2 separate regions of the Homo sapiens genome follow, and region 2 is linked to region 1. Evidence: fine-mapped expression QTL. A gene starts in region 1. The other region holds a variant in brackets. All regions are shown on one strand. Distances are between the middles of the regions. Region 1 holds the start of LINC02981 (long intergenic non-protein coding RNA 2981). Region 2 overlaps LINC02981 (long intergenic non-protein coding RNA 2981).

Region 1 (10,924 bases):
AGCTTGGCAATATATATCAACATTTTTAATGTACGTCTTTTTAGCTCCATTTCCACTGCTAAAAATTTATTTTATGAACATACTTGCACAAATTTTCAAATGTGACTTATAAGGATATTCACTGCAGTAATGATTGAAATAGCATACATCTAAACATTGTTATATCCATACCCTGGAATTCCATGCAGTTATTTAAAAGGACGCCACAGATCTAAATGTGCTAAGAAGGAGTAAAGTTCAATAGACATGCATCACTTAATGATGGGGATACTTTCTGACAGAGGTGTCGTTAGGTGATTTCATCATTGTGCAAACATCATAGAGTATACTTACACAAACTTAGATCATAGAGCCTACTACACACCTAGGCGAGATGGTGTAGCCTATTGCTCCTAGACTACAGACCTGTACAGCATGGTACTGTACTGAATACTGTAGCAATTGTAATACAATGATGAGTATTTGTGTATCTAAACATAGGAGATGTACAGTAAAAATACAGTATAAAAGATAAAAAATGCACTTTGGGAGGCCGAGGCTGGCAGATCATGAGGTCAGGAGATAAACACCATCCTGGCTAACATGGTGAAACCCCGTTTCTACTAAAAACACAAAAAATTAGCTGGGCATGGTTGCACGCACCTGTAGTCCCAGCTACTCAGGAAGCTGAGGCAGGAAAATCGCTTGAACCTGGGAGGCAGAAGTTGCAGGGAGCCAAGATCGCACCACTGTACTCCAGCCTGGGCGACAGAGCGAGACTCCACCTCAAAAAAAAAAAAAAGATTAAAAATGGTACACCTGTATAAAGCACTTACCATGAATGGAACTTTCAGGACTGAAAGTGTCTCTGAGTAAGTCAGTGAATGAGTAGACAGCGAATGTGAAGACCTAGGACATTACTGCACATTACTATAGACTTTATAAGCTCTATACTCTAGCCAGGAATGGTGATGCACGTCTGTAATCCCAGCTACTCAAGAGGCTGAGGCAGGAGGATCACTTGAGCCCAGGAGTTCTAATCCAGCCTGGGTAACATAGAAAGACCCCATCTCAAAAAAATAAAAAGTGAAAATAATAAATAAACTCTGTATACTTAGGCCACACTAAATTTATTAATTATTTTCTTTCTTCAATAATAAACTTAGCTTACTATAACTTTTTACTTTATAAAATTTTTAATTTTTTTAACCTTTTGATTCTTTTGTAATAATACGTACCTTAAAACACAGATTGTATAGCTGTACAAAATTATTTAATTCCTTTTTATCCTTATTTATATCAGCTGTTCTCTATTTTTAAAATTTTTATTTTTTATTGTTTTTAATTTTTAAATATTTTGTTGAAAACTAAGACACAAACAGATACATTAGCCTAGGCCTACACAGGATCAGGATCATTAATATCACTGTCTTCCATCCCCACATCTTGTCCCATTGTAAGGTCATCAGTGCATAGAACTGCCATCTCATTTTTTTTTTTTTTTTTTTTTTGCTCTTATCACCCAGGCTGGAGTGCAATGGCATGATCTCCACTCACCGCAACCTCTGCCTCCTGGGTTCAAGCGATTCTTCTGCCTCAGCCTCCCAAGTAGCTGGGATTACAGGTGCCTGCCACCACACCCAGCTAATTTTTGTATTTTTAGTAGAGATAGAGTTTCACCATGTTGGCCAGGCTGGTCTCGAACTCCTGACCTCAGGTCATCCACCCACCTTGACATCTCAAAGTGCTGGGATTACAGGTGTGAGCCACCGTGCCCACCCCCATCTCCTCTATTAAAATTCCTTCTTCTAGAATCCTTCTGAAGGACCTGCCTGTGGCTGTTTTATAGTTAACTTTTATACATATATGTGTGTATAAATATGTGTGTATGCATGTGTAGAAAGTAGTCTAAAATAATAATAAATAGTATAGTAAATGCATAAACTAGTAACAGTTGTTTATTGTTATTATCTAGGATTATGTACTTGATAATGTGGCATACTGTGGTATGTGGTATACTTTTAAATAACTGGCAACGCAGTAGGTTTGTTTACACTGACACCACCACAAGCACACAACTAATGTGTTGCATTAAGATGTTACAAGGGCTAAGACATCACCAGGCGATAGGAATTTTTCAGCTCCACGGTAATCTTACAGGGCCACTATCGTATATGCAGTCCATTGCTGATCAAAACATCATTATGGGGCACATGACTGTATTATTAATTGAAAATATAAGATGTTGAAGATTAACATTCAGCATTAACCCATTTGTGTAAACAAAGAGTAGATATACAGTCATGCACCACATAATGACATTTCGGTCAACAATGGACCAAATATACAACAGTGGACCCATAAGATTAATATGGAGCTGAAAAATTCCTATAGCCTAGTGGCAATATAGCCATCACAATGTTGTAGAGCAATTACCTTTTTAAATATAAATTTAGTGTAGCCTAAGTGTACGGTGTTTATAAAGCCTACACTAGTATACACAATGTCCTAGACCCTCACATTTACTCGCCACTCACTCCACTCACCCGAGCAACTTCTAGACCTGCAAACTCCATTCATGGTAAGTGCCCTATACAGTTGTATTTTTTCTTTTTTTACCATTTATACTGTATTTTTGCTGTACCTTTTCTACATTTAGATACATAAGTACTCACCATTGTGTTACAGTTGCCTACAGTGTTGTTTTTTTTTTTTTGAGATGGAGTCTTGCTGTGTTGCCCAGGCTGGAGTGCAGTGGCATGATCTCTGCTCACTGCAAACTTTACCTCCCAGATTCAAGTGATTCTCCTGCTTCAGCCTCCTGAGTAGCTGGAACTACACGTGTATGCCATCAAGCCCAGCTAATTTTGGGGTTTTTAGTAAAAACAGGGTTTCACCATGTTAGCCAGGCTGGTCTTGAAGGCCAGCCTTGGCCTCCCAAAGTGCAGGGATTTACAGGCGTGAGCCACAGTGCCTGGCCAATTGCCTTCAGTATTCTGTTACAGTACCATGCTGTACAGGTTTGTAGCCTAGGAGCAATAGGCTATACCATATAGCCTAGGTGGGTAGTAGGCTACACCATCTAGGTTTGTATAAGTACATTCTCTGATATTCGTGCAATGATGAAATCGCCTAACGATGCATTTCTCAGAACATATTCCCATCATTAAGAGATGCATGACTGTATATATTTGCATGTGTTTTTAAGTTACTGGAAGAATATACAAAAATATTAATAGTGCTTGTAACAGTGAATGGTATAGAAAGAAGGAAGGAAGGAGTGGGAGGATTCTGTTTTTTATTTCATACACTTCTACAGTGTTTGAATTATTTTTATTGAATATGTTACTTTCATTATTTTTAAAAACATCTTCTTCCCACCTTCTCATCTTGTCTATTTCAGCCTAGCCAACTAGGTTTTCTCAGGACTGAGGTTATTTATTCCATATTAACTCTGTCTCAAGCTCATATGCATCTCCCACGATTATTTTTCCCAAAACACTTTAGGTTTAAGAATGACCTTTCCTAGGTCTTTAGCTTATGATTAACCAAATGAAACCATCACTAGATGGACTCCCTAATTCAGGTGTTGAATTACAAAAATGAATTTTCAGGGGGAAAAAAATGCTAACTCAATTATGTTAGTTAAAATATCAGTAAAATTAGCAATGCCACAGTGTCATGAAGCAGAAGGTCAAAGACCCACACACCCTTTACTGGGCGCCATGGTGGGACTTAACTGGGGCAGTTCCGGTTCTGCCATTAGGACCATGAGCACTCCAATCTCAGTGAAATTGTATAAGACACTGCCATTATCCCCGGATCATTGCCACGATAGACCCAAACAACTCCAGTCTATCGTGTCAATGTGTATTTGGGGAGTCTTTAACACACGGATCATTGGCGAGCTGCACCATAAAAGCCCTGTAGGAGCCGTGGCCGTGTGTGGAATCAATGCACACTCGGGGACTTCCCCACGCCCGGATCATTTGCAGCGCATCGTGTCAATGCATACTCCGGGAGCCCCTACTCCGAAGCCTGTGAGTGCTGAGGAACAGTGTACACCAAAAATACTTATGGAATAGTTGTTACAGTGCGTACACAGTATTCACTTTTCTAAATGGCATGTCAGCAAGTTTAGTGTGCCACAAATAACTCCTAAAAGGCACAAAACACTCCTAGAGGCCCACCTTCACACATGAATGGTTGGTCCATGGAATTGTGGCATGGCTGTGGGGGAGTGTAAGTTTTTCTTTACAGTGAACAAAGGGAAAAGAAAGAGACATCTGCTATTCAGTGTTGTCAGGGTTTTCAGCATAATCCCAAACACCTCCTAATTATTTTCCTGGGCATTTGATCCCTAAGATACAAGGACCTTCCCTCCATCCCTGCCCTGTTCCAAAGTACCTGTAGAGCAAGCTGAGAGGGCAGAGTTAGAGGATGGGTGGGGTTGGGTCTTAAGTGCGATCCCACAGAGATATAATGTGAACCACATGTGTAAATTTAAATGTTCTTTGTGGCCACATTTTTAAAAAAAGATTTAATTCATGATACTTTATTTCACCCCATATACCCAAAATATTATCATTTCAATATGCAATCAATGTTTTTAAATGATGAATGAGCCAGTTCACATTCTTTTTTCCATACAGTCTTCTTTACAATGGGGTGTGTATTTCCCACTTGGAGAACATCCTGGTCTGGCCTGGCCACACTGCAAGCCCTCGGCAGCCTCTTGTGGTCAGTGGCTGCCCCAGTGAGCAGCACAGCTACAGAGGTTCAGGAAAACCAACCCCAGGAGCGTGGATGTTCACTGCCTTCCTTCAACCACTCCAGGCAGGTGCGTCCACCTTTCCTCCTCATTGCCTCACCAGGGCTGCAACTGCCGAACAGCCTTTTCTCGGCAGCCTGACAGAATAGCTGTGTGTTGGGTTTCTGCAATCATAAAAAATGACCACAAATATGCATTCGGAAAGAGGAACGAAAACTCCTCTAGGCCCAAACGGTAATGGCAGTACTAGGTCATCTTTCTTGGAGACGGAGGTGAAGGGAGGGCAAGGGGCCCCTGGGGAAGGAAAGAGGAGGCGGGCGTGGCGTCGAGCGCGAGGGCGGCGGCCTAGCTGCACCCGCGAACTTCCCCACACCTGCGACCAGCTCACCTCGCGGCGTGAGGGATCCCTGGCAGTCGGACGCGGCAGGGTGGCTGGTTTCTGGGGCTGAGTCTGGCCCGACACAAAAGAGGAGGGAAAGGAGAAGGAGACGGAAACAAAGGCGCGGGGGAGGACGAGGAGGCGCGCGCGGTCGCGGGGCAAAGCGGCGATGCGGTGCGGGCGCGCGCAGCCTGGGGCTCCCGGGACCAGCGGGCGGGAGCAGGCGGAGCGGGCAGGGCGATTTGAATATCAGGCTCTGCCACACTCGGGGCGCCGCTGACAACTTCATTACCTCCGCATATAAAAATGACTGCCGGGGAATGCAAATAGCTCGCCTGTCTCAGCCGCCTGCCCTCGTTCCGCCGCCGGCTGCAGGCGGAGGCCCCGGGAGCCGCGGCGGCCGGAGGCGCAGACGCGCCCTGTCCAACATAATGAACTGCCCGGCCGCGGCTCCGCCCACCCCCCAGCCGCCGAGCCGGGCCGGGAGGGGGAGCCGGCCCGGTGCTGGAGGAGGAAGGGGTGGGCGGCCGGGCGCGGCTCAGAGGCCGCGCGTTGCTAGTCAGTGTCGGCGCAGGCCCTGCCTCTTGACTCTGTCATCCAATTACTGCCATGAAAATACCAGGAAACTAGAGTGCTCAGTGGGTTCCACTCGTGACCGCGAACTCTGACGGAAAAGCGGGACCCCCGGCCTCCGTCCCGTGCGCCCTGGTGGTTAAATTGGACGCCAGCATCCCGGCGCCCCGCTCTCGTCTCGCCTGCAAGCGGGCGGCGGGTGTGCTGCGCCCTGCTCCCCAGGCCTGCGGCCACCGGGACAAGGCTGCGTCGCTGTGCAGGACCCGCCTCCCGAACCCTGGGCCTTGCTGAGCTCCCCGTGTGGCCACCGAGGCAAGCCGCGTGCGGGAGGGAACGCAGGCTTCACGGCGCCTCTCTTCTTGCCCTGGCTTGCTCCCTGGCAAGAAGTCACCTCCCGCCTTCTGATAGCTCCCCCTGTCACATTTGGGCCCCTTGTGAACTTCTCGAGGAGAGGAGCTAGGTCACTTTTATTAATAGCAACAACGACAGTAGTAAACATATGCTGAGGACTATTCTACGCAAGGTACTATGCCAACTGCTTTACCTACATGTTTATCACAGCGATCTTATTGCACTCCTGGAAACCCAGGCTTAGCAAAGCCTTGAAAGGTTCCCAGCATAACCCAGCTAAGGTGGGAGGGAGCACAGGTGAGAACCCAGGCCCCTCTACACTCTCAATCACTCTGCAGTATTTTCCGGGTCCTTCTTACAGCTCACACAACTGTCCAGCACTCCTTTGTCCCCCGAACGCATCACCCCCAGCCATCTTAGGCCGGGCCAGCCCCCCGCCCCCACCCTCACCCCCTCCCTCACCCCCTCCCTCACCCCCTCCCTCACCCCCTCCCTCTCCTTGGCCCAGAAGTAAATCCTAAGTAGTCTAAATCCGTTATGACCAACCCCTTCCCTTGCCCAGGCACTGGCTTAGAAAAGAGCATGTGACCAGTCCTGGCCAAGGCCAAGCCAGGGGACATCTGTTGGGGTTTTCTGGGAAATGCTTCCTTGCCCTAAAAAAAGACACCTCTAGCGATTCCAGTTTCTTCTGTTGTAGAATGTATATCCACCACCTGGCAACCACGGAGGAGCCAGGGAACAAAGTTAGTCTTTGCAGAGATTTACAGGATTAAGTGAGCTAACTCCAGGGTTAAAGTTTAGGAGAATCATGTTTTAGTCCTATCTCTACCTGCGATGGAGTCATGCTGCCTCGTGTTTATTCAGGGACATATTTAAAGTTAACTCCTTTTTGAAACGAGACAAGATAAAAAGATGTAAACAAAGGAAAACTCCAGAAATTTGGTCTTGTCTCCATTAAAGAGTGTCTGTTTCTAGGCACTTCAGTGGAACCTCTCACTTCCAGCTTCTCTTCCTGGGCACTCACCTCTAACTCATTCAGCTTTTTTCCCTCAAAGTAGCTCTTTGCCTACACAGGCAAGGCATCTCTTCCCTCCAGGAACATCAGAACCCCCCTTCTAACCCTCCTGCACCCACACACCCAGGCGTCTGAGCTTGACTGCCTTTGAAATGTTTACTGGCCTTCAAGTAGTCTCTTTGAAGAATTTGCATCTAATTTTGAACTTAGGGAAAATCGGGCATAACCAGTCACTTACTAGTTTCCTTGGCAACTACTTTAAAACAGAATCTAAATTGGAATGAAAATGGATTTTTATGGTTTCACTAAAATCATACACACTTTTCATGAAAATATACCAAAAAAACTATAAAAAATATATACATACTATATGCTTTATTCGTTTATCTGGAATCAATACACAGTAACTAACTCAAATATCTCTGTTCCCCACTGCTGAGGAAAGGCACTCCACACTCCCTTAGCAAGACATTTAAGACCCTCCACAATCTGCACCTAACCCAGCTCCAGCCTTATTTGTCTACTACAGTACATCCCCAAATCATGCTATTGCATTTCCTCTCCCATGACATTCTCTAGAATGCCCTTGAACTTCATGTCCAACTGTTCAAATATCACCGATCTTTCCAAGTCCAGATTAAATATCACCTCTTCCAAGAAGCTTTTCCCATTCCTCACATATAATGACACAAATTGAGTTACTTAGTGTTTATTTTCAGCAATATTTAGCATATTTTATTTACTGATACCCAGTATTGTTAAAATAATGCACATTTCCTAACAGTTGGGGGGCTTCAATATTACCATGCAAACAATTAAAATGAGTAATAAATATTATCAGCAGAATTGTATAAATCTTACTCCCAACTTAAGGCTGAGCTGTTCTGTCAGATGTGATAAAATAAAGCTTCATACGCTGCTTGTTTTTCTTAGGATAACTTTGATTTCAGTAATAGAAAACCTGTCTGTAGTAGCTTTAAAAATGAAGAAAATGTAGTATCTCATGTAGGAAGTACCAAGGTAGCAGATGCTAAGTTTGGTTAATTTAGTGGGTCAAAAATGTTTAATGTTGTCAAGTTTTTCTCGTCTTTCTGAAATTCTGCCATCCTCAGCTTGCTGACCTTGTCCTTAGCTAGTTCTCCTCAAGGTCTCAAAATGGCTGCCATAGTTCCAGGCATCACTTTAAGACATGGCAAAGGCCAGCCAAAAAAGTTGACTGTTCTCAAATTTTTTAAGAGTGGAGAAATTATACCAAAGATCCCTCAGATCTTTTCTCATTGGCCAGAACCAGGGCACGTGACTATCTCTAAACTACCACTGGCAAGAGAGGCAAGATTATCAGAATTGATAACTAATCAGGATTTAGTCTTGAATTATTTTGAGGGTAAGGGGAGCGGTGCAGGAGAGCAGGGAATTGACAGGACAGGCAATGCCAAAACAAAAGCTGAATTTTAGTCCGTTTCCCAGTCATCAATTTCTGCAGCCAAACTATCCCAAAGCTTAGTGGCTTAGAAACTTTTTTATTTTTTCTCTAGAATCTGGACAGGGCAGCTCCCAAGGAATAAGGAATAAGGGAGGATGGCTATTGAGTAGGCACTAAAAGTATCAGCAACTTTTCTTTTCTTTCTTTTTTTTTTTTTTTTTTTGAGATGGAGTCTTACTCTGTTGCCCAGGCCAAGCTGGAGTGCAGTGGCACCATCTCAGCTCACTGGAACCTCTGCTTCCCTGGTTCAAGGAATTCTCCTGCCTCGGCCTCCCAAGTAGCTGGGATTAAAGGCGCATGCCACCACGCCTGGCTAATTTTTGTATTTCTAGTAGACACGGGGTTTCACCATGTTGCCCAGGCTGGTCTCAAACACCCAACCTCAGGTGATCCTCCCACCTCGGCCTCCCAAAGTCCTGGGATTACAGGCGTGAGCCACCACGCCTGGCCAGTATCAGCGACTTATGATGGCTTTTTATTTGAAGATCAAAACCAATCACACTTTGATTATTCTTATATTGGTTCTTTCTACCAAAAAATAGTGTTTGAAAAAATGGTATATATTGATTTAGTCGATAGCAAACTGCTTGGCTGAATCCAATTGATATTTTCTTAGGGTGCAGTAAAATATTTGCTCTTTTGCTTTGCTTTCTCCCCACTAAATAACTAGCCATATTATGGATCCCACATAGGATTTTTCCTTTAACAATATGAATTCTTGACTGAATTAAGCCATTTTTGCCCTAAGTTCTTTAGTTTGTAGACATCTGAGAATTAAGTCAGGAGAATAGCAAATAATTATTTTAATTTAGCAAATAATGTAATAACTGGATTATTCACCATCAGAATATTCCTCTTTGAAAACGTGTAAATCATAGAAATGTTTGAAGATAAAATTATTAGTCATTCCCCTCTCGAAGGCAGATAGGAAAATTGTAACATGTAGTCTTTGTTTTGTAATGTCACTTCATTATCCTAAATAGGCCTTCTAGTTCTCTTTTAATTTATATATATTATAAATAATATTTTTATATATTTTATATATTTATATTATATAAAAATTATATAATATAAATAATATATATTATTTATAATATATTATATATATTTAAATATGTATAATATATATTTAAATTATATATATATATATATATGAGGTAAGAAAGTTCTTAAGTAGTGGCTAAGTCATGTCATTTATCTGGAGTCAATACACGGTAACTAACTCGAACGTCTCTGGTCCCCGCTGCTGAGGAAAGGCAGCCCACACTCCCTTAGTAAGACATTTTTAGTCATGTCATTTACTAAAATACCACATGGACTTCCTTTTGTCATCGTATCTTCCATCTTCTAATAAATGTATAAGTGTCTCTAGAACAATACCTGGTCAGATGATGAATGTTCGTACCATCATACTCTCCCTTTCTTTTCAAGACACTCATGGAACTGCTTGCACAAAATCTGATGTATTCCAATACCATCTCTGTGAATCATAGACCTTTAAAGCCAGAATGACAGTCCTCTAATTTGATAGGTGAAGAAACTAAGGCCCTAGAATTTAGAGAATTTTCTGGAAGTTACCAGACTAGTTAGTGACACAGTGGGATCTCATTATCTTGTTTCTGGTTGGTTGCCCCTTAGACCATACATTGGTATTAATGATTAACATGAAGTACAGACCTAACTCTAACCAGGTTATGAGTCAGATTCTTTAATATGGAGTTGGTGGCACCCACTCAACCAGGTCCCTGTAATCTCCACGCCAACATACTCAGCGATCCCATCAAGTCTCATTCCCAGGTACCTGAGGTCTCCTCAAATCCCTGTTTCATCACCTGTGCCAGCAGCCCAGGCAAACCTGGGGTTCACGGAAGGTACTTGACAAGGTGCTTCTTTCTGTCCCCATTGAGCTGGGGCAGGCAGGGGAAACAGAGACAGCTGGTGATGCATCGCCTCCTGTCTATGCACCTTCACAGCGAACTTAAAGCTGAATCTTCAGATTCAAATCTGACAGTTTAATCATAAAAGAAGGTTTTTCTTCTCAAATGTTAATTGAATTTCCCCCCTTAAATAATTGTTTGGATTTAGAAACCCTGAGGCCTGTATTTTTTCAGTGTGGAATTATTCCGTTGGCAGCATGCATTCGAATCCACAACTCCTGTTTCAAATCATACATTTCTAAAAAGAGAAACCAATGTGCTCCAATTCACTAATACTTTTAAACGATTAAAAGACAACTAAGAAAATGAAGCCTAACCACGACTATTTGTAGCCTTCTTTTTCTTCAGCCAACAATTGCTGTAATCCACACTAATGAGGTAGACGGTGTTAAGAATTTTCTTCACTTAACATTTCTCATTATTAATAAATTTTGCA
Region 2 (10,924 bases), 61 kb before region 1:
ATGAACAAGAAAAACAAAATGTATATCTGCTCTAGCCATTCATTGCCAGGTGGCTCAACATTAAAGGCCTTGATAATGCCCATGGTTAACAACAAAACAACTTTGAACACATGGTGTTGCTGGCATTCGCCTTTCATCCATCCCCCTGCCTTCAGAATGACCAAGATGAGTTTATTTCTGCCCTCTATTCCCTTGCCTAGGAAAAGAATTTTCTCATGCCAGCCACTGCCTGGTTGCCTCTTTCCAGAACAAAAGTAATTGACGAAAGCCCACAGTTAACTTCCATCAACCTGAGAAAGCAGCAGCTCGGATGTCAAGTCTCAGCTCTTCCATTTGGTTACTGTGTGATCTTGGCCAAGTTTTTAAATCTCTCGAATCTCAGTTTTCTTAGGAATAGAATGGAAAAGTAAAATTGTCTTCTACAGTTATTGTGAGGGTTAAATGAAATGAAGAATGGATGGTGCTTGGAACGTAGTACTTGCTCACTAAATGTGGGTTTCCTTTCTTTTCCCACAAGAAGGTGACCCTAGAATCACTCTGAAATCACAACATTTTTTTTTAGACAGAGTCTCACTCTGTCACCCAGGCTGGAGTGCAGTGGCGCGATCTCGGCTCACTGCAAACTCTGCCTCCTGGGCTCAAGCGATTCTCCTGCCTTAGCCTATACAGTAGCTGGGATTACAGGTGCCCACCACCTTGCCCAACTAATTTTTATATTTTTTATAGAGATGGGATTTCACCATATTGGCCAGGCTGGTCTCAAACTCCTGACCTCAAGTGATCCACCCACCTCGGCCTCCCAAAGTACTGGGATTACCGGTGTGAGCCACCGCGCCCGGCCTAAAATCACAACTTTCAAGGTGACACTTGACCATGGCCCCCAGAGATGCCTGGTCAGGGCTTAGTAGTAATGGAGACCAGCATAGGCTGTCTGGACCTGTGTAAGCCGTCCCCCATCCTCCCCTCCTCCTCCTTCACACAAGCCCACAGAGGGACAGGGTGCCCTTGGTACCCCTCTTGCATTTACGGCAGTCCTTCTCCGTCCTGCAAGGGTGGTGAACTGAATTCAGAAAAATGACAGGTCGTTACAAATATATTGCATGTTGTAAAATGAAAGAAAATGTCCTTGTTGGAAAGCCAAATGACTTACTTTGGGAGCAACTTTAAATGATAGGCATAGGATAGCACAAACGCAGAATGCACGTGTCACACTTTGGTATAATACTTCAAATAGGCATGTGGCACTCTATTGATTGATACACATGGGCTCTGGCATTCACCCTTTAACTGGATGCTCTCTGACAGTAACTCTCTATGACTCTGCTCTCTATTGATTTGGATTCATCTCTAAAAGTTCAGATTTGGAGGATACTCAGGCCAGGTCTGTACTGAGAACAATGCCTTGGAGAGTTGGTTGCTATCCAATGAATTCCAGTAATTATGCAATGAATTACAAATTGTCTATACCAGTGTTTCCTGGAATGTTTAATTCAGCAAAATACCTGTGAACATTCCACGATACCTTTCTGGAAGGAGGTCAGGGAAGAGGGTAGAGTGTCCAGTGGGAGGGGGTCTTTGTCCAGTTACCACTATCCTAGTCCTTGTCCATCTCTATCTCCTCACCCCAATACATTCTTATAAACACATAAAATTTACATGACTTTTGGTTTCTGTCTGCCATCACCCACTTCTGCTTCTAAGGTTAAAAACTACTAAAAAGACTTTTAAGGAAGCCCTAACTGGCTATGTGACCTTGGGTAAGTCACAAGCTCCACTAGATAGTTCAAGTTCTCTGCGCATTTATTATCACTGCATTTATTATCTTTAATTTTTGTGAGTACATAGTAGGTGTATATATTTATGGGGTATATGAGATGCGTTGACACAGGCACAAAATGTGTAATAATCACATCATAGAAAATGGGTCTCCCCCAGCCATCCCATTACTGTGTATATACCCAAAGGATTATAAATCATGCTGCTATAAAGACACATGCACACGTATGTTTATTGCAGCACTATTCACAATAGCAAAGACTTGGAACCAACCCAAATGTCCAACAATGATAGACTGGATTAAGAAAATATGGCACATATACACCATGTAATACTATGCAGCCATAAAAAATGATAAGTTCATGTCCTTTGTAGGGACATGGATGAAGCTGGAAACCATCATTCTCAGCAAACTATCGCAAGGACAAAAAACCAAACACCACATGTTCTCACTCATAGGTGGGAACTGAACAATGAGACATTGTTCAGTGGACACAGGAAGGGGAACATCACACACCGGGGACTGTTGTGGGGTGGGGGGAGGGGGGAGGGATAGCATTAGGAGATATACCTAATGCTAAATGACGAGTTAATGGGTGCAGCACACCAACATGGCACATGTATACATTTGTAACAAACCTGCACATTGTGCATATGTACCCTAAAACTTAAAGTATAATAATAATAAAATTAAAAATAAAAAGAAAATGGGGTCTCCATCCTGTCAAGCATTTATCCTTTGTGTTACTGGTTACTGCTTTTAAATCAGGATGCTGATTCAGGTCACGGACCTCTTCAAGAGTTCAGAAATGCCAGGCTCTACCTCTGGAGCTCAACTTAGTCTGTGTAGGTACCTCTGCCTCTCAAACCATCACAAGGGTGAGAAAGATACATAGCGGATGGAATTATCCCAAAGGTATATTGGATGTGGTTGTTCCCAGGCTCTTCCAAACCTATTGTCAATAAGCCCACGATCTGGCAGAGTTGAGCACAACAGGAACTCTGCATCCTTTGTTGGAGAAGTAGTTTTCCTTATGTTCATTTTAAACTACAAATTTAACAAAGTAAGTGACCGTGAGAAGCTGTGTAGTTTTGATGATGAAAGAGTCTGGGAATGAAGAAGAAATCTCCAGATACTTCAGAAGACAAAACATCTCTCCCAGTTTCCATAAAATGAAATAATGTCCTTGTTGGAAAGCCAAATGACTTACTTTGGGAGCAACTTTAAATGATGGGTATAGGATATAGCGAATACAGAATGCACATGTCACACTTCAGTATAATATTTTAAATAGGCATGAGGTACTTTCCTTTGTACCATGAAAATGAAAGATATTCACTGCATTTTCTTCCAAGTTAGATTATGACACATGTTTATTGGGCGCCTGTTATGGACCAGCCCTGTGCTAGGACCTGGGGTGCAGCGGTTAATAAGGTACACATTGCTGCTGCCCTGAGAGTTGGCTTGGTGGTGAAGAGAGCCCTTGGCTGGTGGTTAGAAAGCCAGCTTTTGGATCTAGGCTCCCCCCTTGACCTCTTTACATCTCAATTTTCCTTCAGCAAAATGAAGGCAATAGCCCTGTCTACCCACCTACCAATCTACTTCACAGGACCAGATAAATATGTTACAGGCCTCACAAACCATAGCACACTATGAGAAGATCAAGTATTACTACTGCAGAGATTTAAAATTCTTTCTCTCATACTCAAAAGAATGGAAAGCAGGGACTTGAACAGGTATTTGTATACCCATATCACAGCAGCATTATTCACAACAACGAAAAGGTGGAAATAATCTAAGTGTCTATCAGCAAATAGATGAACAAAATGTGGTTTATACATTCAACAAAGTATTATTCAACCTTAAAACAGAGGGAAACTCTGACACATGCCATGACATGATGAACCATAAGACATTATGCGACATGAAATACACCCCACACGAACGGACAAACATTGTATGGTTTCACTTATATAAAGTACCTAGAATAGTCAAGTTCATAGAGGAAGTAGAATGGTGGCAACCAGAAGCTGTGGGGAGGGGACAACAAGGAGTTGTTGAATGGTGCAGGGTTTCCATTTGGGAGAATGTTCTGGAGAAGGAGGAAGTTCTGGAGATGGCTGGTGGTGACGGTTGCACAATAATGTGAATGTGCTTAATGCCGCTCAACTGGTCACTTAAAACTAGTTAAAATGGTAAGAAAAAACCGCTTTCAGGATAGCAACTGTGTCAAGGTATACGCTGAGGTGAAGCAGCAGCAGCTTTTCTGTGGGAAGCCTCCTTAGCAGGCACCAGCTTGCTGTGTTCCCACTGTCCAGGGCTGGCATTCAGCTCTAAGTCAAAGGCTCGGCACCCTGCACTTGTCAGCAGGGTGACAACTGGTAAGAATTGGCCCAGCTTTTCATGGGTACACCTCAGAAGCACAGCATGTATGTATAAGATCAAAACACAGCATTGACATTTTTAATAAGAAATCACTATCAGAGATGGTCTACAACAGTGTCAGCATCCTGTCTACTTTCTGTTGGCAAATGTTCAGCAGCAACAAGGCAACCTGAAGACAAGGTTTGGTGAACATTGAATTGAGACAGGAAAACTAAGTGTTTAAGTGGCACCATGATAGGATGGGATGTTCTTCCCAAAGGGGACCTGAATCCTTGAAATCTGTTGATTACAGACTTGTGATATCTATGATTTCTGACACCGTATTGGAGATGCATCTTTCAAGAGGCCTAGAAATTACCCGTCGATTGACTTCAGCTCCTTCTCTTTTGGACAAGGTTTGGGCAGTCCCTGCTAACATTTGCCTTTGAGTCCCTTTTTTTGTCCTGCTTCCATGCTGAGTAAACCCTCTCCTTTCTGATCAAAGCATTATTTCTTTAGATTTGCTAATAAAATTGCTCAAACAAGTTGCAATTGAGGGTGTGGGCTTGGAAAATTTTCAGCTCCTTCGGATGACTTCCAGCAGCTGCACTGTGATCCATTTTGTGCTAAAGGTTTAAATCTCAGAGAAACAACAGCCCCTCTTTATGGAGTTCTTAGGGACACCTTCTGGAGCCCCCAAGTACTTACAACAACCATGATTACCCATCTTTTTCAGTTTTCTCCACATATGCGTAACTAGGGAGAAGCTAGAATATCTCTTTTCTGTGCAGTTAGGCTGGGAACAGAAACCAGAGATGTCTCTAACAGTGACTGATGCAAAGATGATGATCTCACTAGAGAAGCAGGGCCTTCCCTCTCTTGCTTCTCCTTGGCTTCGTATGCCAGTAATTGCCCAGTGTCCATGAAAAATTGCAGCTAAATCCCAGGCTGAGAGCTCAAAATGGACTTTGGACATTTCTCTTCCTGGCAGACTTCTGTGGAAAGAGTTGAAGGATTGCTGGCAGTGAGAATGTCTCCATGAAAAGTCACCTGGTGGAGGTCAGGGGCGAGGGCCCAGGGTGAATTTTACCTTAAACAGGACAGATCTGCAGATAAACAAAGGGAACCATGGTTTTGAGCCTGGTTAGTTTCTTAATCCTTTGTAAGCACATACATCATTCCCTGCAAATTCTTCCTCCAAACTGGAATTCACCGGAAGAAATCAACTTATAGAGGCAGCTGTTTCTTCTCTTGCATGTCTTCTGTTAAACAAAATAAACTGTACAACTAGCAAGATTGATGGTAATAATATTAAGTCCAAATAATCCAAATCGATTCCATCAAGACCTGGAAAGGTAAGCTGGGGATAACGTTACAGTAAAGGCATGGTTCTTGGGAGACGGTAAAAGTGTTACATTCTGTGCTACCTTTAACCTACAGAACATGTTCTTAGGAGTCAGGCCAACCTGCAATTAAACCCCAGCTTTGCTGTCAGGTCATTCTGAGTCAGGTTGGGCCATTTTCCAAATCATAAAGTAGGCTAAGGTTTGATGGAAGAATTCAATCAGAGAGCATGTATCAAGAGCCTGGGCGAGTGCTTGGCACAAAATGGGTGCCGAATAAGTGGTGGTTTCCAGCTCTCTTTCTTCCACTCTAAAACAAGCACAGCCTAGCCTGTGCATTTAACAAGTAGCTCCTGCCACAAACCCATGTCCTTAGATGATACAGCAAATCCATACCCTTGATGAATGGCTTTACAATGGGCTACCCTTGTGCTGTATATCCTAAATGGACAGAGAAGCATCTAAGAAA[T/C]CTAAAAGAAGCAAACTACCTGTCTCCATAACTCCAGAGCAAATCACAGTACCAAGGGCTGATTTGATGGGAAATCCCCCATCCATCACCACAAGGAGCAAAGCTGTGCCTGGGTCAGCCCAATAAGTAGCCATCCAGGAAATCCAGGTGTGCAGGGGGTTGGGAGAGGAACCAAGAAGAAGAAGCTAGAGGTCATTGGCTTTTCCCTGACCTCCGGCTACATTTCAGGGCCACCTTTAGGATGCCCCAACCTCTCTTCACACCACAGAAAGAGGACTTTGAAGATGTAGGTGGTGTCCCAGCTCCAACAAGGCAGGTTGTTCAGGGACTAACCAAGAGAGGGAGGTTGGAAAGTACTGGGGGTGTCCCATTGCCTCCCTTGTCCTTTCTTGACAGCCCCAATACAATTATAGATCCCCTGAGACCAAATTGTTTCCTTTTTAAGCTGTCCTTACATTTGGAACTCCCATAAAGAAAGCAATAAAATGAGAGGTACCCTCACACTGCCATGTGCAGGTGTTCCAAGTCGCAGCGAGTCATTTGAATCCCCACTTAGGCCAGCAGATTCATTCCATCTGTGCTTACAATTCAGTTGAGATCAGAATTTTCTGATGCACAGCTTTCCTGAAATGTCTGTTTCTCCATTGTTTTTCACATTCCAAAGGAGAAAAATCATCATTTCCATCCACATTATTAGAAACAAAACTAGCCCCTTTTCTCCCCAGCCCATATTATTGCCTCATTACAAATATATTTTGTGCATCAACCTTAAAGGTTATGTTTCCCTCCTGCTTCCTCCTTTCATTATACAAGATTTCCAGTTATCCAGTATTTTGTTCTCATTAGAACACTGCTTGTCACATGTTTTCACCAGAGACATTCATCACCAAGGTCAAAGGGTGAATATCGTGATCTATTATGCTTAGAGGAATCTAATGAAAAGCCACATAATTATCCAATTTAAAGAGAAGCAAGTAAAAAAGAAGGGGAGCACTTGCTATAATTTAAATTGTTTTGTTTCCCTGAAGCAAAATTCAGCACCTGATTGACAGGACCTAATGATAATTCTTATTGATACGGTGATGTTAATTGTGGAGAGATATTTAATAAGTCCCATATTCTGGAGGTAAATGCGTGCTCTTAACCTGCACCTGAACCTGATTTTTGATGCAGCGTGGGGATGAGGTACAGATACAGATAAGTGAGCACAAGTGGATTTTCAGTCTTGTGTGGCAGAATGGAAATTGGAATCTTCAGAATCTATTAGGAGAACAATTCCACAGTTGCTCACACTTTTATAAATTATACTGTATATTACAGAAAGACACAAAGTCAGGGGAGTTGCAAGAAGAGGATATTGTCATGACTTTACAGAGAAGTTTTTAGGGTAGCATTTGGTGACGGTGGTGGTGGTGGTGTTTTCAACTAAAGACACACATCAAAGAACGTGATCTGTATTCATTTTTAAACAAAATGCACTAATGAAATCCACATCCTGAATCATCTCTCTGCCACCCCCAGGTAAAGCTGACCTTGCAGAAAATGAGGCCAACTCTGAAACATAGGTAGATTCTTGGAAGAAAATGACTTCTTACACCGTGAACAAAACCATTTGAGAAGGCCTTCATGGGTCTAAATTACAAAAGGAAGTGATCCGTGCGGGCTGAAAACATCAACTAGATCTGCATCCCATCATGAGATGGCTGGGAGGCAGGAAACAGCTGCTGGAGCTGTGGACAGGCCTGAGGTCATCTCTGACTTTCTGAGAGGCCATTTCAAAGCCACTATCTGGACAAGAAACGATGGGTGACCAGATCCAGCTCTGTGTGATTCAACTCTGTACACCAGTGAGCCATCCCTCACAGAGAAGCTGTGTGTTCCTGGTGTTTTTTATTACGTGCTAAATACCAGAACTTTAAAACTGCATCTGTGATTGTCATGAGACAATGCCATCATTTTGGAACTAATACTCACACCGCCATCTTTGTGCAAATAATACAAGGTTAAAAAAGAAATAAAGAAAGAAAGAAAAACAAAAGAAAAGAAAAGAAAAGAGAGCTGCTCTAAAGACAAATAGACTTGAAAAAAATGAGTCAACTTGGAAAAAAGAAGTAACCAAAGTGGCTTAAATCTGAGGGACGGCAAATTGTTCAAATTAATTTCTTTCAACTCCAAGTTAACTCAGTCTTCCATTTTTACTTATGAGAAAAGAATATTACATGGTGAGTATTCTAATATAACCTGCTTAATGTAATTATTCATGCCAAAGCATAATTAACTTCAAAATAATCAAGCCACAGATAGTTATAACCTGAGTCACAGTGGGTCACTGTTACTAGAAGAGAAAGCTCTCAATCTACAAATAGGAACATGAGAGTAAAAATGTAATCATTAAAGGGTGTCAAGGAAAACAAGAGTAATTTTTAATGAAGAAAATGTTTAAAATGTCCTAAACATTTCAAGATAAGATTCTTCTTGAGCTTAGTTAGCAGCTGGGGTCTGGCACATCGGGGGTGATCAGTAATGAGCAAAGACCAGACATTCTTTTTTGCTTCCTGAACTTGCTTCATTTTTTTTTTGCTTTTAATACACACACACATACATATATACATATCCTTGGAATAGTTCAGATATAAATTATATTGACTTTGAGCCATGTACTTACCTTCACTGAAAAAAAAAGTCAAGTTAATTGGAGACGACCAAATTGATCGCGGGTTATGATACCAATAGCAGCTGAAATTGCTGCTGTGATTTTCAACTGCCTAAGCCAAAGCATTACATCATGCACAGGAGATTATAATTTCTCTGAAGAACACTTCTGGTATCTCACCACCCGAAAAGTGATATGCCAGCAAATTGATGAGAGTTCAGAGAAAAGCAATAAAAATAATTAAGGATTGACTGATGGAAAAAGATGAAAAGAATTGAATGTGGGCTGCCTGACCCAAAAATGACCTGGGTGGTTATAGGAACATTACCCAGGTATCTGGAGGGTCAAGATTCCTGTCTGTCCACACAGCAAAACAATGCAATAATAAACAAAACAAAGCTGTTGGATAATTCACTCCATGATTTGCTCTGGAAGCTGGTGCTGCTCTGGGCCAAAAACCAGGGTCATGTCTACTCTGAGCAGTCACCAGCAGTCACTCTATGCTTCTGTGTGTCTCTTAGTGTGGGCTCAAGGCTGACATGGAGGCTGGGATGCCACTGATGTTCCCCTATTTCCACTCTGGTGCTGTCTAACCATACACTCATCCTATGCCAGACACCTGGGTCCTTGAAATGGCCTGCAACCCAAAAGAGAAAAGGTAAAGACTGGTTAACATCATGGTTGAGAGTCTGGGTTCAACTCTCAGCTCCAATACTTTCCAGCTGAGTGACCTTGGGAAAGTTACTCAACCTCTCTGAGATTCTGTTTCCTCACTTGTAAAATGGAGAGAGGAATAGTGCCTTCCTTCTAGGATTGTTGAATGAAATTTTTCACATAAAGCACTTCTCAGTGCCTGGTGTGTAGTAAGTGCTCAACAAATGGTCGCTACTGTTCTTATTTATTATAATTAGCAGCAAGGGCCAGGAACACCTGAAGGGGCAACAAAGATCTGACTCTCCTAGTAGGGGTTCCAGGCCCTAAGACATTCACCATGACTTGCCTGGCCAGTGCCTGAACAGATGTTCACTAATGTTATCGATGTGCCTCTCCACCCCCCACCACCCAAACATGCCAGTTTCCTTTATATCTATTATAGGCTGGGGGACCAAATGTCCTAATTTGCCCAGGACAGTCTTTATGCCTGTTGACCTAGGGCAATTACTAATAGGACCCTCTTTCTGTCAAATCAGTTATGATGATGAATGATATGGTCAGCCTAGTTATGAATCTCTCAACATCTTTTTTTCTAAACCTTTTCTATCCTGCATCATCTCTTGACAATGAGTTTCTTAAGTATATTGAAGTTACTGTGAGAAAGTATTTTTACCAGTCCTGACCTTACCGAGGTCAACAGTTTTGCCATCTCAGGAGCTGGTGAATGGATCCACGGTCACCCTAGTCCCATATTGTCCACACTTCACTGTGCTCAGACTAAAGAGCCTAGCCAGTTAGTCTGTCCCACACTGATAAGCCTTCTGCATTCCCACTTTCATTTTAGTTGATTTGCTCTGGAAAATGTCCAGTGCCACTGGATCTTCTTTAAGAAGCATAACTGAAACTTTACTTTAGGTTTAAGTGAATGAAATAGTCCCTCTTTTTATTCCAGGGTTTGGAGTCAGGGGATCCAAGTTTGAGTGCTAGCGCCATCCTTTATACCTGCGTGACCTCAGGTAAATCACTTCATCTCTCTGAGCCTCACTTTCCTTATCTTCATAATGGCAATAATGTGTAGATAGTCATGCAATCTACAAATAGTGATAGCTTTACTTCTTCCTTTCCAATCTGTGGGCCCTTTTTTTCTTGCCTTATTGCACTAGCTAAGACCTCCAGTACAATGTTGAATAGAAGTGGTAAGAGTCAACACCCTTGCCTTATCCCACTCTTATGGGAAAAGAGTTTAACATTTTACCACTAAATATGTTACCTGTAGATTTTTCATAGCTGACCTCATAACAGGTTGAAGAAATCCCCATCTAGTCCTGGTTTACTGAGAGTGTTGAGTTTTGCCAAGTGCATTTTCTCTACATATTTAGATGATTACATATGTTCCCCATATTCTGTAACTTATTAAATGATAGTAATTAAATTTCAAATGTTTAAAGAATCTTATATTCTTGGGATAAATCCCATCTATTGCTGGACTCAATTTGCTGTATTTTGTTAATAACTTATGTGTCTCTTATTGATGTGATGCTATAAGAAAAGTATCTTTTCTCTATTCCTGTATCTGAGAATCAAATGAGATTGTGAATGTTAACATGTTTTCTAGACTGTAAAGTTTTGTCTACATGTGGACTCCAAAGCTGCTGCAGCTGCTA

Evidence for each region. PIP is the estimated chance that this variant, and not a neighbour inherited with it, causes the effect.
Region 2: its variant is fine-mapped to the expression of LINC02981 in prefrontal cortex (GTEx, PIP above 0.99).

Annotation. Positions count from the first base shown.
Region 1 is chr7:26,393,236-26,404,159 of GRCh38, reverse strand. LINC02981 (long intergenic non-protein coding RNA 2981) reads right to left here and starts at 5,591. Exons shown (of 5, transcript NR_148502.1): 1 at 5,139-5,591. It overlaps SNX10-AS1 (SNX10 antisense RNA 1), which reads left to right and starts at 4,742. Exons shown (of 2, transcript NR_136272.1): 1 at 4,742-4,819. RefSeq lists silencers at 5,055-5,164, 5,255-5,714 and enhancers at 6,185-6,424, 5,499-6,455.
Region 2 is chr7:26,454,689-26,465,612 of GRCh38, reverse strand. The region is part of intron 1 of LINC02981 (long intergenic non-protein coding RNA 2981); the gene reads right to left. Among named protein-coding and RNA genes, the nearest start is that of SNX10-AS1, 61 kb to the right of the region's middle. The variant T/C (reference allele first, on the strand shown) is at 5,954.